Regions from separate parts of the Homo sapiens genome. Here all the other regions are linked to region 3. The links come from fine-mapping of genetic effects on gene expression. A gene starts in region 3. Each other region holds a variant in brackets. All regions are shown on one strand. Distances are from middle to middle. Region 1 overlaps BTBD9 (BTB domain containing 9). Region 2 overlaps BTBD9 (BTB domain containing 9). Region 3 holds the start of BTBD9 (BTB domain containing 9). Region 4 overlaps BTBD9 (BTB domain containing 9).

The links. PIP is the estimated chance that this variant, and not a neighbour inherited with it, causes the effect.
Region 1: its variant is the best candidate, but not a certain one, in a credible set for the expression of BTBD9 in whole blood (TOPMed, PIP 0.55).
Region 2: its variant is the best candidate, but not a certain one, in a credible set for the expression of BTBD9 in blood mononuclear cells (TOPMed, PIP 0.67).
Region 4: its variant is the best candidate, but not a certain one, in a credible set for the expression of BTBD9 in whole blood (TOPMed, PIP 0.58).

The regions. Positions count from the first base shown.
Region 1 is chr6:38,178,239-38,182,867 of GRCh38, reverse strand. The region is part of intron 10 of BTBD9 (BTB domain containing 9); the gene reads left to right. It overlaps LOC124901315 (a long non-coding RNA gene), which reads right to left. Exons shown (of 2, transcript XR_007059571.1): 2 at 1-4,629. Among named protein-coding and RNA genes, the nearest start is that of BTBD9-AS1, 300 kb to the left of the region's middle. The variant G/C (reference allele first, on the strand shown) is at 2,768.
Region 2 is chr6:38,170,835-38,174,834 of GRCh38, reverse strand. It overlaps BTBD9 (BTB domain containing 9), which reads left to right. Exons shown (of 11, transcript NM_001099272.2): 11 at 1-4,000. Among named protein-coding and RNA genes, the nearest start is that of BTBD9-AS1, 310 kb to the left of the region's middle. The variant T/C (reference allele first, on the strand shown) is at 2,106.
Region 3 is chr6:38,637,670-38,642,298 of GRCh38, reverse strand. BTBD9 (BTB domain containing 9) reads left to right here and starts at 2,370. Exons shown (of 11, transcript NM_001099272.2): 1 at 2,370-2,499. LOC105375044 (a long non-coding RNA gene) reads right to left here and starts at 1,904. Exons shown (of 3, transcript XR_926767.4): 1 at 1,815-1,904. RefSeq lists enhancers at 2,028-2,107, 1,908-2,408 and a silencer at 2,508-2,707.
Region 4 is chr6:38,202,177-38,206,805 of GRCh38, reverse strand. All of the region lies in intron 9 of BTBD9 (BTB domain containing 9), which reads left to right. Among named protein-coding and RNA genes, the nearest start is that of BTBD9-AS1, 280 kb to the left of the region's middle. The variant C/T (reference allele first, on the strand shown) is at 2,210.

The sequences.
Region 1 (4,629 bases), 460 kb after region 3:
CACAATCCTTAGACCTGTCATATTGGAGCAACAATAATTCTCCATCCTCAACTGGCCTGGGAGAAAGTGACCCCAGACCTGGGCAGATGAGTACCCAGGAGCCTCCCAGCAGTGAGACGCATGGAGACAGCAGCTTGTGAGGGTCCCCTCAGATGTGTCCCATTGCTGTGCCAGCAGTGAGGGGTGATGCTGGAAGCCTCGACGCAGCTGGAGCCCTTTGAGACAGAAGGTACATGCGGAGCCTGGTCACACAAAGTGAAGAACCGCCCAGGCAGCTGGAGACACATGGGCCAGCCCTGTGGGGAGAGCAGGGCCATGGCTAGGCTCTCTTGGTGCCTGTCTGGTGTGGGAAGGGGGCCCTGGTGAGGCCACATCTATCAGGTGGGGAGATTCAGGCATCCCAGAAGCCTGCGAACAAGAACACTTCCCTTTTTTTGTTTCTTAGTTTTTCAAAAAAATAACTAAAAGATACCTCTACCACTCTATAGCCGAATCCATTAAGACAAGAAAGTAACTCTCTCCCTGGAACTCTGGAGTGTACACACATAAAAAACAGGGCAGGAATTCCAGGGCTGCCTGGGGTGATAGGGATTGGAAAGCCTCTTCTTCCAGAACCTTCCAAGCATCAGAGTTCCAATTATCTGTGGATATCCTGGCCTATGTGAATATGAGAAAATGATATTGTAAAGTTTTTTTAAAAGCTGTTGCCGTACATAAGCATTGTCACCCAGAAACTTACCTCCATACTTAGTGCAAAAATATTTGGGTATCCTATCACCCTAAGCAATACTGAAAATTTGTTGCTCGCAATTTGGAAATGTCTCCCTATGAAGTAATTCCTAGTTTTGTTTTTTGTTGTGTTTGTTTGTTTGTTTGTCTTTGAGACAGAGTCTCGCTCTGTCTCCCGGCTGGAGTGCAGTGGCGCGATCTCGGCTCACTGCAACTTCCGCCTCCCACGTTCAAGCAATTCTCCTGTCTTAGCCTCCCGAGCAGCTGGGATTACAGGCATCTGCCACCACACCTGGCTAATTTTTGTATTTTTAGTAGAGACCAGGTTTTGACACGTCGGCCGGGCTGGTCTCGAACTCTTGACCTCAAGTGATCCGCCTCTCTCAGCCTCCCAAAGTGCTGTGATTATAAGGTGTGAGCCACCATGCCCGGCCCCTAACTGAAAACAATGTGTTGGGCTGTTCAGATGCACATAAAAAACCAAGGTTTATCAAAAGGGATATTTTGTTGGAGGCACTCGTCTTCATTTTTAAAGAACAAAAACAAAACATCTCTGCAGTCTGTAGATGGACTGTTACCTTCTGCTCTGAGGCGAGCATAAGAGAGATGTTAATGGTGACCATCGTCAGGATCTGTTATGTCACTGAACGCTGGGTGGGTGTGTGATGCCACCACATCAGCCACTGTGAAAGGGAAATAGGGGATCTTTAGGGGAGTGTAAGTTAGAAGTCATGGCTTTGCATCTGACTTATGGACAGACATCAAGAGGTAGATATCTATTTTATAAAGATTTGTCAACTTGTATTTGTAAGTTGAAAACTTGGATCAGAAATCCTATTTGTATTGGTTGGCATGAAAGCAGTCTGTGGAAATTATTCAGGAGGAACCAGGAAAGCAAGGCAGAGTCATTGATCAACATTTATTAAATTTCCCCAATTTCTGCTGCAGTTCACAGTGGACTCTTAGGCCAACTTGGGAAAATTAGCAAAGGCTTCTGCTTTTAAAAACCTTGAAAATTTGTCAAGCAAATAGTGCTTAGGGAATCCCTCTAATGAGAGGCAGCAGCCACCAAGCCACTGAGGAATTAGCCTGGTCACCAAGAAGGGGCTAGCACATTTGTGTACATCCTGTCCAGGATTCACGGGGAAAAGAACACCCAGCCTATCTCCAGTATGTGGTGAATTATGGCTCCCAGAGAGGCAAGGCAAAGTGATCATAAACAGCAGCTACAGAAAAGGACACCCGATTGTGACTGAGGCTGTGTCGGATTCATACACACGACCACATTCCAAATTAGCCGGCTTCTCTCAGGGGAGAGATCCAGAGGCCATTGAAGACGGTTCAGCGAAGGCGCCCCTTTGTGAGCAGCGGCAATCAAACAGGCTAATGGGATACATGATTGCTGAAAAGGGGAAGGGAGACTGATGCGGCGGCCAGAGTAATGGTTTTGCATAAATGAGTAGTGCGGCTCTGCCCAGTGTGTCTCAGCCACATTTGGTCACGTCCTTTCCAAGAGGTATTGCAGTCTTGGGAAAGTTTGGAGAAAAGAAATTGAATCACTTGAGCTTCTGAGCAAAGAGACTCAGGACTTGGCTGTTCCACCTAGAGGGAAGCCCAAAGGTGCCTGGTGGAAAGAAGTGGGCTGAGGAGCTTGGGGTTACGGTGGGAAGGGGAGGGCCACATGCCCAATATTTCCAGATTTCCCCCCTACCATGGCAGTGATGACTTCCTCCAAGCTGCCATCACCCTCCTCCAGCTCCTGTGTATAAAAAGCACTGCCGCCTCCCTTCCCTCACACTCCTCTCCAAGGGCCGGAGGCAGCTTCACGCCCAGCCCCAGCAGCGTGGCCACCAGTGAAGGTGCCAGTTTCCCCACGACAGGCTTGCTTTTCACTCCCGCTCCCAAGAACAGAATCGGGACCACCCACAGGCCCCCCCGAATGCCCATTTGCATTGCGTGCAAATCTGAGGATTTCTGGGATCCCAGGAGAAGTAACCCCAGCCTCGTACATGTTGATGGGCATCCGAGTGGTCCAGGA[G/C]CTAGCTGGGTATTGGCTTACACAGTTGCCACATTTGGCTGAAGGCTGCTAGGCTTAAATCATCAACAGAGATGACTGAGGCAGGCACACTGCTCCACAGAGGGGTGACCAGAGTGAATTACAGACAGGCTGCCAGGAGTGAGGTGCCAAGGCCCAGATCTTTATGTGGAAATCTTCTCCTCGTTCCCTTTGCCTGGAAAGCAGCTCCCCTCCCTGCCTCCCAACCCCTCAAGGCCTCACCTGTGCACACCTTCCTCTCTGTAGCCTGCCCTGACCCCTCTTCCAGGCAAAATTAGTTTCTCACACACCTCTGATGTATGAAATATTACTGATCCCGTGCTGGTAGAATTGTTTGTGTGAGGCAGGTATGTTGATACAGTGGAACAGTCCAGGCTTAAGGAAGGCACAGCCCTGAGGTTCATTCCCAGCCTGCCACTCGCCATTTGCAGAAGAGTGAACACAGGCCCCTGCACAGAGGTGCCTCTGCCCCCAACTGCCTGAGAGGTCCTGAGGGCAGGAGCTGCGCTGTGGGCGCACCTGCTGGAGTCTGCACTCAGTGAAATCATTGCAGGGAAAGGGTCTGTGAGAGTCCTTGGCATGAGTGCAGGTCTGAGCTGCTGTAACTGGAGCCCTGGGACCTGCTGCTGCCACCTTCTGTAGCACCGCAGTATGCCCGCCCCCGTCCCTTCCAGGGAACCCTGAGAGTCATTGTGGGCGCTCTCCTTTATCAGTCTCATCCAGTCTGTTACCAAATTCTGATCTTTCTTGATTTGAAAATGACTCCTGCCTATTGATTCCAAATTGCTAAATCAGGGGATTCCAAGGTTTAAAGGTTTGTTGTCATCTAGATTTTTAAAATACTTGTTATTTGAATTTGTCACCACAAATGTATATTCCTTTTTAAATAACTTTTTTAGTTTAAGAAATATTAGTTTTTAAAGAGTCTCGTAGGCTGGGCATGGTAGCTCACGCCTGTAATCCCAGCTCTTTGGGAGGCTGAGGTGGGCGGATCATGAGGTCAAGAGATCAAGACCATCCTGGCCAACATGGTGAAACCCCATCTCTACTAAAAACACAAAAATTAGCTGGGTGTGGTGGCACGTGCCTGTAGTCTCAGCTACTTAGGAGGCTGAGGCAGGAGAATCGCTTGAACCTGGGAGGCGGAGGTTGCAGTGAGCTGAGATAGCCCCCCTGCACCCCAGCCTGGCGACAGAGCGAGACTCTGTCTCATAAATAAATAAATAAATAAATAAATAGCCTCCTTTGTCCAAGAGTATCAGGATCCCTGCCCAGCTTAAGGCCAGGCCCTCGCCCTGTCCCATTGGGTGTGGCCTCTGCCCCACCCCTCCCCCCCACACCCTGCTGCTCCCAGGCCCTCCTTGCTCTGTTGCCACCCTTTGGCTTGAGAACCTGTGTAGTTCTTCCTGTTTTTCTTCCACACCAAGTCCCCCCCTCCTCCATCCTCTCTAGCTTGGCTGCCTCTTCCTTCCAGACTCACCTCAGATGTCTCCTCCCCCAGGAAGCCTTCCCTGACCGCCTGCCTGGCTGGGTCCCACTCCTCTATGCCCTGGGGCTCCTTCTCCCTGGCTTATGTGTCTGCTGGCCTCACTGGACCGTACACCCTCTGAGGGCAGCTGGGACCTCGCCCAGTCAGGCACGTAGGAGGTGCTTCATGCTTGTGGTACGTGTGTACCTCCTGACCCTGCTCACGTGTGCAGCGTCATCCTCTGGCCGTGTCTGCTGCATATGTGATGTTCATCCTGTCTCTGTTGGTGTGCAGAGGCTGTTCCCTCCCCACCTGTCACCTGTAGCTTGCCCACCCCCACCCATGGCAGGTTCTGTGTCTTCACCCGCCTATCCAT
Region 2 (4,000 bases), 470 kb after region 3:
TTTCTCCCAAGGACAGAAAGGGGCTGCTTTGTTCTTCTCAATTTATCCAAATCAGGCAGGTCTCAAGGGGGAGAAAATGGGTCTTCAATCTTCATCAAGTCCACCATTAACACCCTACCTCTCTAATCTAGCCCAGGCGCAGGGAACAGGAGGAAGTCATAGACAGGCCTGTGTTGGAATACAAAAATGGCACGCAAACACTCAGGCGGAGGAGAAAGCCATTGGGCCTTTGCTACCTGGAGGCACCCTTTAGGAATGGGCCTCCATAGAGTGTTCATTCTGCTGGAATACATTGCCCTGGCAACTAAATGATTTTTTATTTGTTTTAGTTATTCTCCACTCAGTGAATCATAGGTGTTCCGGATCTATTTGAAATGCTCAAACAGCAAATCACTAGTTTTAATCCCTTTTGATGCTATAATTTTCCTTCCTTGGTTTTGAACGGTTCAGCTTGCGGGGACAGAGACCCATCGTGCATGTCTCCTAAATGAGACACGGATGCAGCTCATCCTGGCACTTGGGCCACAGAGGAAGTGCCACAAATGCACACAAGCAAATCAACCTGTGGACACTGGAGTTAATAGTCACTCGTGTGGCTGAGTTACTCACCTGTCATTCCTGACATGGATCCAGCCTTTAAGCTTGGGAGGCTGACAAGGAAATAGTTACTATGCCCGCTGCTAATTCACTGTTCCGAAGTCCATGTAGATAAACATATACCGAGTTCTGGCGTGGCCAAACCTGCCGGGGACTGCCGTGGCTTAGCTGCCCCTCCAGTTGTGTTTATCGAAGCATTGGAGAGGCAGCCACCTGCCCATCAGCGTCAGGAACGCAGAACTGGGACTCCGTGCTTCCCCCACACCACAGTACTCAACTGGGGACTGAAAAATAGCAGTTCCAAGAAGCTTTTCTCCTAATCCTCATCAAAAGGACCTCATTTGACGATGGTGGCTTGATGTGGCTCCGTCTCCTACTTAGTGATTTCCATTCCAGTGCTGCCTGCCCTGGGTAACTGCGCACAACATTGCCTGCCCCTCCGCTGTCCCCAGAGCTCCGGCCTCTGTCGCCATCAGCATCAGCCTGGGAGTCTCCCCAGGACGGCATGGCACGTGAGCAGCACTGCAGTCCTTGGGTCTTCGGCGCCAACCTGCAACCCTGATCAAAGGAGGGTGAGGGCGTGGGAGTTTCCTTTCAGGTGTGTCAAAGACATATCAGCTGCGCTCTAGAAAGAGCCAACGGGTCAGCCGCTTCCTCCTAGTTTAACTTGATTTTGAGTGATTTGTCCATATGGAAATAGTAGGGTAGCATCAAACTGCGTGATTAAATTGGAAGACTGTCTTTCCGTGTGAACACAGGATGGCAGACATCAGAGGGCTACCGGGGCAGGGTGGACACGTTCCTGAGGAGAAGCCAGGGTCTGCAGCTCTCCATCCTCCCCGGTAGCTCCAGCTGCAGGGCTGAGCTGCTTCCTATCCCCTCAGCTCTGATCTCTGCCACTTCCCTGTTGTGTGGGAGAGTGGAACACTCCTGGGATGCCAGGCATTTCATAATGGGAGGAGGCTCCTGTAAGGAACGGTGGGCGCCCGCTCACAGTGGGGGGCCCTCCAGCATGGTTGCTGACTCTGTCAGCCCCCAGCCCCGGGTTGCCAATTAGCCAGAGAGCTCCTGCACACACAGCACTTCCTTCCCCAGTGTGTTTTCTACCCAGATGGGGACAAAGGAGCCAGACAGTCATATCAAGGGCAGAGTTCAAACATTTTGAAATGAGCCATTCACATGCTTCTTTTTAAACATGGGCATCACCTGCCCAGAGGCCCTTGGCCTGAAGCAGCATGCTGCTGACCTTGGGAAGAGAGGGTGGGCTGGTGGGGGTGCTGGAGGAGCTGCCCGGCCCTGCATCTGCAACCCTCCAGTCCCCTGCCCACAGAGCACGCAGAGCCCTCCTGTGCTCCGGGAACGAGATAGCAGCTTGGCAGCTCGGCCTCGCATCTGAAAAGGAATACGCTGCAAAGCCTCGGCCCTAGACCCACATCTGCAGCTCCCTGGCCTGTGGCGGTTCTTTCCTTCGGGGCATGCCCTTCCAGATCTCTGTCCCTCCTGTCTTC[T/C]AGCACTTTAAAGATGCCCCTTATCATCAGATAAAGAGAAGTATGGGGACGATGGGGTGGCACTAACAGTAGATGTCATTGGTGAGGACTGATGGCAAAGTCTCATTCCCTCACAGCCGCGCTGCCAGCTCGCCTCCCCCTCGCTTTGCTGGGAGCCTGCCCTGGACTCCAAAAGGACACGGGTTCACCTCCTTTCCCAGGCTGGAGGGGTACTGCCCTTCCCTGAGGGGCCTTCTGACTGGGGCAGGAACTCTTTTCGTGTGTCCAGCTGGGCCTGGAGGCCAAGTCAAGGTGTGTCACACCACACACCAGGGCAAGGACCTCATCTCCAGGGAACAGGGACAAGTGAGTGGCTACCAGAAAGTCCCCGGGCAGCCTGGAGTTCCCCAGAGCCTGGCTGGTCCTACAGAGCACTTCTCCCCTGGGCCACCAGGACCAAAGCGACCTAAACACTTGAAGCTAAAAGCAAGTGCTGATGATGGGATGGGCTGGCACGTGGCTGGGAGGGCTCCTGGGCACCACAGAGCCCTCAGCCCAGCAGAGAGTGGAGGCTCAGTCCGTGGGGAGCGGGGGTTGTGAAGGAGACATGGCCAAGCCCCTGGTCGGGGAGATAAGCTCCCCCATGCCCAGGCCAGCCCCAGGGGCAACAAGCCAACATGGAGAGAGGTGGCAGGTGAGGCTGACAGGTGGGTGCCTGTGGCCTGGGCCCATGAGGGCAATGGTCCTCAGTAACCAATGGAAAGGACACAAGGGCGCCATGGTCACCACCACCCAGGCAAAGAAATGGGAGGTGGCCAGCACCCCCACCCTTCACTTTTCATTATTATTATTATTATTATTATTATTATTTTTTTTTTTTTTTTTTTTTTTTTTTTTTTTTTTTGAGAGTAGAAAGGCAACTTCATTGGAGCTTTTGGGGAAAAAAGCCTTCAAAGTCACCTTCTGGCAGCTCTGGGGAGGGTCATTTGGGGTGGACTGAGAGTGTAGGGCAGGTAGGGTGTGTGCTGGGCAGCAGCTGTGTCCATGCAGCCAGCACCCAGCAGGGCAGTCTCACAGGAGCCGTTGTGAGCACTTTGGACTTGAAGCAGCTATGAACCACCCCCCGCCCCCACCGTCTCTCCCTCTCACACACACACACACACACACACACACACACACACACACACACACACACCCGTTTTACCATTTTCTCAGTGCTTTTTCTGCTTTCATTCCTTTGATTTTAGTTAGAAGCACAAGCCATGATGGATGTGGGACTCTTCTCAATTGCTCTTTAAATTGTCACTTTTTAAATCCTATTAAATGAAGTGTCGATTCCTGACAAATACATTAAAAGTGTTTTATTCCTAGAAGAGTTGGGAAAAGAAATTATTTTCAGCAAGAGTAGGATGTTTGTTAAACTGATTCCTTGGCAAAAAAGAGAAAAAAAGCTTTTGAATTGTGCAAAAAATTGCCCAGTATTATGCTGTCGCCCCAGTTGTCAAACTGCTGTGCAGATGGCTCCAGCCCAGTCAACTTCACCTTCTTTTTAATTTAGAAGATAACAAAATTGTAATCACTTATCCTTTCCAGAGCCAAGGGGGAAAAGGAAGGTATAATCTACAATAAAAAGCGAGCGTTCTGTGTACTGAGGCCACTTGGTGATAAAGAGATGGAGCGCTCCCCTCACAGACTTCAATTAAGAACCTCCCTTTGGACAGGGAAGAAAGGTGTCAAAGAGGAAAAGAAAATTAAATTTGCTTCCTTCCAGGAGTTTTTCCTCATTAGTGCTTGCTTGTCGGTGTTATTATTTTAATCTTACCTTCTATGTGGTGACCAGCTCCTCCGAGCGATGCCCAGGTCGGGCACGGCCCGGGCAGGGCAGGTCTGCAGCGATGCCGTGGCAGAGGTGGGCA
Region 3 (4,629 bases):
TCACAGTCATATTGCTATAGTCTCTGAGGGGACCTACTGAATTGTACCCTTCTTTTCCAGGTAATGGAGAAAGCTGCAGGAAACCAACTATTATCTTTATTACTGACTGTATCAGTTTCCTATTGCTGTTGTAACAAGTTAGCACAAACTTGGTACCTTAAAACATACAAGTTTCTTATCTCGCAGTTCTAGAAGTCAGAAGTCCTAAAATCAAGGTGTTGGCAGGGCTGTGTTCTTAGGGTGCTAGAGAAGAATCCATTTCCTTGCCTTCTCCCGCATCTACAATTTGCTTGCGTTTCTTGGGTCCATCTTCAAAGCCAACAGTATAGCATCTTCAAATCTCTGTCTGACCTCTGCTTCCATCATCACATCTCCTTCTCTGACTCTGACCCTCCTGCCTCCAGCCCAGTCAGACAATCCAGGATAATCTCCCTAGATACATCATTTAATCATATCTGCAAAGTCCCTTTTGCCACATAATATAACATATTCATGGGTTCTGAGTATTAGGGTGTGGTCATCCTTTTTTTTTTGGTTGGGGGGGATCATTATTCTGTGTAACACAGCTGACAAAGCTGGTATTAAATATTATCTGTGGACAGACAGCTTCCTAATGCCAAACTCTGGAATTAAATACATATACTCTCTTTGTAGCCCTGGACTAGGCACCCTTGTCCCTACCCACAGGCCCTGCTCCAGAAGAAACGGAAAAGAACACCAGGACAGTTCCCTGAAGATAGTTATCTTTTAAGAGAAAAAGAATGGGATAGATGCCACATGTCCAGTTTCTCCCATTTAAGTTCACCAATCAGGAAGTCACTCCTCTAGGCAAGAGTGAGTTGCAGACAGGTATAAGAGAAACCAGGAGAGTATTACACTAATGGATATCATTCCATATGGAAGAAAGACATTGTGAATGGAGAGTAAATGTTTCCCTAACAAACATATCCATATTTGAACTCATCATCATACTCCACATATCTGGTCATCCTCCTAAGAAATGTCACCATCACTATCTATAATAGTAACTTAGACACTTGTGGATAATCAAGACTCATGTAGCTTGCCATCTTGCTAAATGTTACCACTGTCTACCTCAGCACTCATGCTAGAAACCTGGCCTACTCATTTATCCGCACTCAGTGCTGTGAATTCTACCACCTTAATGGCGCTAACATCTATCCCCTCCTCTATTCCCACTGCCAATGCCTTGTTTAATGTTCTTATCACTTGTCTGGAGTACTGCAATGGCCTAAAAATGGGTCTCCCTGCCCCAAGCCTTGCTTTTCCTGACCATTTTCACTTTCTACTTTTACTCATGAAGCTTCCTTTGCCCGGAATTAAGTCCTTCCCAATTTGTCTCCTCCAACAACTGCAAGGGCGGTCCCCTAGCTTGCTCCAGCGTCGGGGATAACTGACTTTCCTACACCAGCTACAGTCAGACCTGCACCCGGATTTCTAGGACTCTTATCTATGTAGATAGATAAATACATTTTTTTGAGACAGTGTCTTGCTCTCACTGCAGAGGCTGGAGTGCAGCGGCGCGATCACGGTTCACTGCAATCTTGAACTCCCCAGGTTCAAGCGATCCTCCCACCTCAGCCCCCCGAGCATTTGTGACTACAGGCGCGCGCCAACATGCCCATTTAGTTTTTGTCTTTTTTGTAGAGACGGGGTTTCACTATGTTACCCAGGCTGGTGTCGAACTCCTGAGCTCAAGCGATCCGCCCACCTCGGCCTCCCAAAGTGCTGGGATTACAGGCTTGAGCCACCAAGTCAAATGGGCTTTATACTTACAAAGTACCTTTGCATACCTTATTTCATTTTCACCTCACAATTCTCCAGCGTAGGCTGGACCGGTATTATTATGCCCATTTACTGAGAGAGGAAACTGAGAGTCAAGGCTGGGCCAGTCACACCCTGCTGCGAAATTAACGAGCATCACTTAGCAGCCTCGACATTAACCGCGCTCGCGCTCTCATCCCTTTCTGGTCCTACTCCTTGGAGAACCTTCCTGCACCTCCAAGAACTTGCCGATCGGGTCTGCGGCGGTCTGGACGAGGTCACTCCACAGGCGCCCAGGACCTTCTCATCCGTAGTGACGTGCGCCGGTGACGCCATACAGTGACGTGTGGTGACTCGACTTACCCGGAGCCAGGTGCCGGCAGGGCAGCCACACCCTGGGGCCCCCTGTTCTGGAGGGGCAGAGGGTCGGGCCGATGCGAAAAAGCCGCGGAAGCTGCCTTAGGCGACTTTCTGGGCCTGCATCGCCGGACCCAGCAGCCCGCTGTCGATCGGTTGCTAAGTGACGCCAGCGCGCAGTGGCGCGTGCGCGGCCACGGCGGAGTGCGTGAAAGCGGACGCGCGCCGCAGCAGCCGGGGCGGCGGCGAGGACGGCGGCCACGGAAGCGGCCAAGGGGGCGGTGGCGCAGAGAGGGGTGCGGAGCGGGCGGAAGAGGCGTCTGTGTCGCAGCTTGGTCTCAGAGGAGCATCGCTGGGGTGAGTAGCCGGGTCCTTGCAGGGGAGGTGGGGCCTGGCCGCACCTGCGGCGCGGGGACGCGCGCCCCCGCCGTATCCGCGCGCACCGCCCCCCGCCCCTCCGCCGCTTTTTCCGGGGGCGGGGGAGGAGCTGGGACGGGGCCTGACGAGGGTCATTTCTTGGGCCCGGGTGCTCTGGGAGAGCGGTAGCCGTCCCGTTCGCAGTCCACGAAGGTGTAGTGGGAAGTAGACGTTTCGGGGATTCGGGGTGGCTCTACCAGCCTCCCAAAGAGAGGAGTTCGAATCAGGGGCAGCCCAGGTTCCCTAGCAGTCTCGTATCCTGTCTGAGACGACGTTGCCTGGGACTGAGGAGGCGAAACCCGGGACCCCGGGGTGGGGGTTTGGAAAGTTTGGGACTGCTGGGGCCCTCATCTCCCCTGCCCTGGCCAGCCTCTGAGTAGGAGCTGGTTGTTATGGAGAGAGTTGTGAATCAGTGCCTGCGTGCGGCATCAGACACACCCACGACCTTGGGAGGGCGACCTGTCAGTATAGATCCGGGGCAGCCAACCTGTTGCCTAGAGTTTCTAACTTCACATGTATGTGCATGTGTTTCCTTGGCGTTTTAGTACATTGTTGTTACAGATTTTGAGACCAAGGTGCTGATAGGCATCCTCATTTCTTACTTCCTCATAGACTTAGTTATCTTGCTATATTTCCCAGAACCGTGTTGTGCTTTTGTCATTAGTAGATCCAAGGAAGTATGGAAGCATGTTTTGTTTGTTTTTCCTAAAGGCAGTACAGGCTGCTATTTTCTGGGCAGAAAATACGGATTCTGTTCACTGTGTGGGCGGAAAGTGTTGATGATGGGAGAACCCAGCATGTAAAGGTGTAGCTCATCCTCAGCCCTGTGCTGTCTTCTCAGTGCTCTGGACTCTATCATGGGTAGATGTATAGGGGTTGTGGTTACCATACTTGGGAGCGAGGAATATTGGAGACAGGGAAGAAGCCAGTCTTTTCTTTCTGTTGATTAAGGCAATTTGTAGAACCAGTGAAAAGATAGGCTGTACTGAAATCTAATGTTTTGTGTAAGAGGATAGAGGAAAATAAGTTCAAGGTTCTCATTTAGGTCTAAAATTCTATGATTCTGTTTCATAACTGAGAATCTGTAAAGTATGTTACCTCTTGGAACCAGTAATAACCTTGCTTTGTAACACTTATTAGATTACTCGGAATTCAAAGTGTCTTCCTCCCTCCACTGTAATAGCTTTTAGGACAGGAGTCATCTGTGTTTTCCTCCTTGCCCTATGTCTAACACATAGGAAAAATGTGCTTGCCACAGAGTAGGCATGCAATGGATATTTGTTATATAGCACACTATGCTCAAGTGGTGTATCTATGTATAGAAAGCATTGAGTTCAGTCCATCAAGTACTTAATACATGTGCCTCCCTCTGCCCAGTATCATGATAGGTGTGGGAGGAGGATTATGGAGTGAAAAATGACATAGAAGACCTGTCTTTTTTTTCCCTTTGAGAGCAGTAGTCTAGCTAGGAGATGTATAAAATAATTATAAAACCAAGTTAAGTAGCAGGTAACCAGTGCTGTTTGAGGACTATAAATGTGGTAGAAAATCAGAAAAGATAGGATGTGTAGGCTGAGTTAGGGAACTCTTTGAAAGAGGCAAGATTTGACTTGGTCTCTGAAAGAAGTTAAAATTTGTTAGGAAATAAACCAGGAGCTGAGAAAATAATAATGTGAATTTGGTTGTTGGAGGATATACCAAGACGACTTTTATGTCTGGTAACTGGAGCGGAACGTCTCTTATAGGGGAATACTGGAGAGAGATGGCTTAGCAGGTTGGGAAGGCAAAGTGTTAAGGATTAAGGCGGGCTTATCAGCATCCCACTGTTAACAAGATACAGCCTTCTTGTAAGGTGGGATAGAGGTTGTATTAATCAGAGTACAGTCTTTGACAAGAATAAGTGTTATCCTTACTTGAAAGTAAAGGATATTACGCTTGAACCAATATCAGGTTGTTAATATACTTTTGATTTCAATTACTAATTGGAATCGATGCCTCACTAATGTGCATGTATTTTAGGTAGTCAGTGGTGCATGTCTCATTATCTAAAATCTACCTGATGTACTTGGG
Region 4 (4,629 bases), 440 kb after region 3:
TATTTCCTAATTACATTACTGGAATTATCTATTGTGTTCCTACTTTGAAAGATAAGGATTTAGTTTCATTGCCCTCTGCCCTTGCAAGTACACACATGCACCTGTCTGCTTCATCCTCCTGTTTAGTTAAATCACAGTTTTTCTTTGTATCAGATTTCTTGTTGGCATTAGGATGACTATGTAACTATCGTTCAGAGCCAAGCCATGTAGTGTACTATGATCACCTTTTTTTTTTTATCATTTGTTTTCCCTAGAGTTAAAAAGTGGCCAGGTGCAGTGTCTCATGCCTGTAATCCCAGCACTTTGGGAGGCTGAGGCAGGTGGATCACGTGAGGTCAGGAGTTCAAGACCAGCCTGGCCAAGATGGTGAAACCCCATCTCTACTAAAAATACAAAAATTAGCTGGGCATGGTGGCAGGTGCCTGTAATCCCAGCTACTTGGGAGGCTGAGGCAGAGAATTGCTTGAACCCGGGAGGTGGGTTCAAGCCTCCCAAGCTGGGAGGCGAGGTTGCAGTGAGCCAAAATCATGCCACTGTACTCTAGCCTGGCAACAGAGCAAGACTCCATCTCCAAAAAAAAAAAATTGCTTAGTTTTCTGTATACCTATCCTTCATTAATTTTCTGTGTACTATCACTGATTCTTCCCCCACAACACAATTTGTGTTGTCAGAGCAACACAAATTCTTGTAACCTGGTTAATACATCTGGTCAATTAGTTTCTCTTTCTCCCTTGAGATGTTCCCATAAGCTGCCCGCCTTCCCTCTGCAGTCTGGACTAGTTGTCCTGTGGGCCTGTTTTACGGCTCTCATCCTGGGATCTCCCATCCCATTATCTTAGGAATTCTTCTTGCCTTTATTCCATTTCACATTCTCTGTTTTGTGGATCCCATAACTTCCTTTCTTTCTTTCTTTCTTTTTTTTTTTTGAGACAGACTCCTGCTCTCTCAGGCTGGAGTGCAGTGGCACAGTGTTGGCTCACTGCAACCTCCGCCTCTTAGGTTCAAGCAATTCTCATGCCTCAGCCTCCTGAGTAGCTTGGAGTACAGGTGCGCACCACCATGCCTGGCTAATTTTTGTATTTTTAGTAAAGAAGGGGTTTTGCCATGTTGGCCAGGCTGGTCTCGAACTCCTGGCCTCAAGTGATAGTATCCCATAACTTTCTTTATCTTAAGTTGGTCCTTTGTTTTGGTGGAACACATTTTCTGGTAGTTCCTTGTGAATGCATTGGAGGTGAAGTTTTTATTTTATTATTTTTATTTTTCTTCGCATAAATACAAAGAGAGGATGAAGGTGAATTTTTTTTATGCCTGAATGACAATTTCTTTATTCTGTTCTCATACTTCATTTACTTTGTCTGGGAATGGTCACTAATTTTTCCCTCAGCATTTAGAAGGAAGTGATCTATTATCTTCTCACCCCCAGTGTTGCTTTTGAAAAATTTATGTGAACCTGATTCCCAGGTCTTTGTGATGACCTGCTTTTTCCCCCTCCAGAACTTTTAAGATCTTCCAAAGTTTCTTAATAATATACTTTGGTGCGGATCTTTTCTCATTTCTTGTAATGGCTACTTAGTAGGATCTTTAACCTGGAATCTTATGTCCTTCATATGTGGGAAAATTTGTTGTGTGACTTTGGCACTTTCCTAGCTCATATTTTCTCTGGAACATCATATTTCTTACTGGAACATCTAAATTAGATGGTGGAATTCCTCATTTGATTCTTCTATTCTCTTATACTTTCTCTTCTATTTTTTATCTTTGTCATTTGATTTGACATTCTGGGAAATTTCCTCAACTTAACTTTCTAACCCATTTGTTGAATTATTTATGTCGCTCATAGTTTTAATTTACAAGAGCACTTTCTTGTTCACTAAATGTTATTTTTTCATATCATTTTATTTATTCCTATTTCAAAGATGTAATAATGCTTCCTTTTATCTTTCTGAGGATAATTTAGGGTTTTTTTTTCCTGAAGCTGTATTCTGCTTACTGAACTGTATCCATGTCCTCTGAGTCATTACTTTTCTCTATTTGCTGTTGGTCATCTTTCATGTTACAGTCTTTTTTTGAACATTTTAAACAGCTTTATTGAGATACAATTCATATACCATACAATTCACCCACTGAAAGTGCACAATTCCATGGCTTTAGTATATTCACAGAGTTTGCATCCATCACCATAATCAATTTTTGAACATTTTCATTACTC[C/T]AGAAAGAAACCACATACCCAATAGCCATCACCTCCCAATCCCCCCAGTTAATTCCCCAGCCCTAGGCAACCACTAATCTACTTTCTGTCTGTATATTCTATACATTTCATATAAATGGAATCATACAATACATGATCCTTTGTTATTGGCTTCTTTCACTTAGCGGGTTCATCATATTATATTAATAGCGTGTATCAAAATCTTATTATTGCTGAACAGTATTCCAGTGTATGGATATACTACATTTTATCTATCCATTCATCAGTTGATGGACATTTGGGTTGTTTCCACTTTTTATTATGAATAATGCAGCTGTGAAGATTCATGAACAAGTTTTTGTGTGGACATGTGTTTTCATTTTTCTTGGGTATGTATCTTGAAGTAGAATTTTTGGATCATATCACACCTCTCTATTTAACCACCTGAGGAACTGCCAGGTTGTTTTCCAAAGTGGCCACACCTTTGAACATTCCCACAAGCAGTATATAGGGGTTCCAGTTTCTTCACATTTTCATCAACAGTTGCTGTTATCTTTTTTTAATTTTTAATTTTATTGATACATAGTGTTTTACATATTTATGGGCTACATGTGAATGCTTTTTACATGCATAGAATGTGTAATGACCAAGTCAGGTTATTTGGAGTATTCATCATCTTGAGTATTTATCATTTCTATGTGTTGGTAGCATTTCAAGTCCTTTTAGCTACTTTGAAATATACAATACATTGTTGCTAACTATAGTCACCCTAGTCTGCTATGGAACATTAGAACTTATTTCTTCTAACTAACTGTAAATTCCTACCTATTCACCCCCCTTTCTTCATTTCCCCCTTCCACCTTCACACCCTTCCCACCCTTTGGCATCTATCATTCTGTTCTCTATCTTCATATGATCAAGTTTTTTAGCTCCTACATATGAGAGAAAACATGTGGGGTTTGTCTTTCTGGGCCTGAATGATATCACTTAACATAATGACCTTCAGTTTCATCCGTGTTGCTGCAAATGACATGATTTCATTCTTTTTTATGGCCAAACAGTATTGCATTATGTAAATATACCACATTTTCTTTACCCTTACGTCCATTGATGGACACTTAGGTTGATTCCATCTCTTTGCTATTGTGAATAGTGCCACATTAACATGTGAGTGCAGATATCCCTTTGAAATACTGATTTCTTTTTTTTTGGATAGATAGCCAGAAGTGAAATTGCTGGATCATTTGGTAGATTGCATGTTTCCAGAAATTTATCCATTTCCTATAGTTGTACTTTTAGATTTTTAAAAATTTATTTCTCAGCTTGAAAAATAGTAGTAGTTTATTGAGAAATCTCTATACTGTTTTCCATGGTTTCTGTACTAATTTACATTCCCACCAACAGTGTATAAGAGTTCCTTTTTCTCTTCATTCTTACCAACATCTATTATTTTTGTCTTTTTAATAATAGCATTCTAACTGAGGTAAGATGATATCTCATTGTGGTTTTGATTTACATTTTCCCAATGCTTAGTGATGTTGAGCATTTTTTCATATACCCTTTGGCTATTTGTATGTCTTCTTTTGAAAAGTGTCTATTCATGTCCTTTGCCCATTTTTTAATGAAATTTTTATTTGTACATTCTGGATATTAGTCCCTTGTTAGATGAATAGTTTGCGGGTATTTTCTCCTATTCAACAGATTACCTTATCACTCTATTGATTATTTACTTTGCTGTGCATAAATTTTTAAATTTAATACAGTCCCATTTGGCTAGACCAATATCCTGAACTGGTTTCCCTATGTTTTCTTCTATTATTTTTATAGTTTCAGGTCTTACATTTAAGTCCTTAATCAATCTTGAGTTGATTTTTGTATATGATGAGAGATAGGGGTCCAGTTTGCATATGGATATCCAATTTTCCCAGCACCATTTATTGAAGAGGGTATCCTTTCCCTGGTGTAAGTTCTTGGTTCCTTTGTTGAGTATCAGTTGGCTGTAGATATGTGGATTTATTTCTGGGTGTTCCAGTATACTCTGTTGGGCTGTTTTTATACTCATACCATCTGTTTTGATTACTATAGCCTTGTACTATATTTTGAAGTCAGGTAGTGACTGCAAAGCCTCTAGCTTTGTTCTTTTTTCTTAGGATTGCTTTAGCTATACTGGCTCTTTTTTGGTTCTACATGAATTTTAGGATTTTTTTTTTCTGTTTCTGTAAAAAATGACATTTTTGGGCTGGGTGCAGTGGCTCACGTGTGTAATCCCAGCACTTTGGGAGGCCGAGGTGGTTCATTAGGTCAAGAGATGGAGACCATCCTGGCCAACATGGTGAAACCCCATTTCTACTAAAAATACAAAAAAATTAGCTGGGTGTGGTGCCGCACACTCATAGTCCCAGCTACTCGGGAGGCTGAGGCAGGAGAATCGCTTGAGCTTG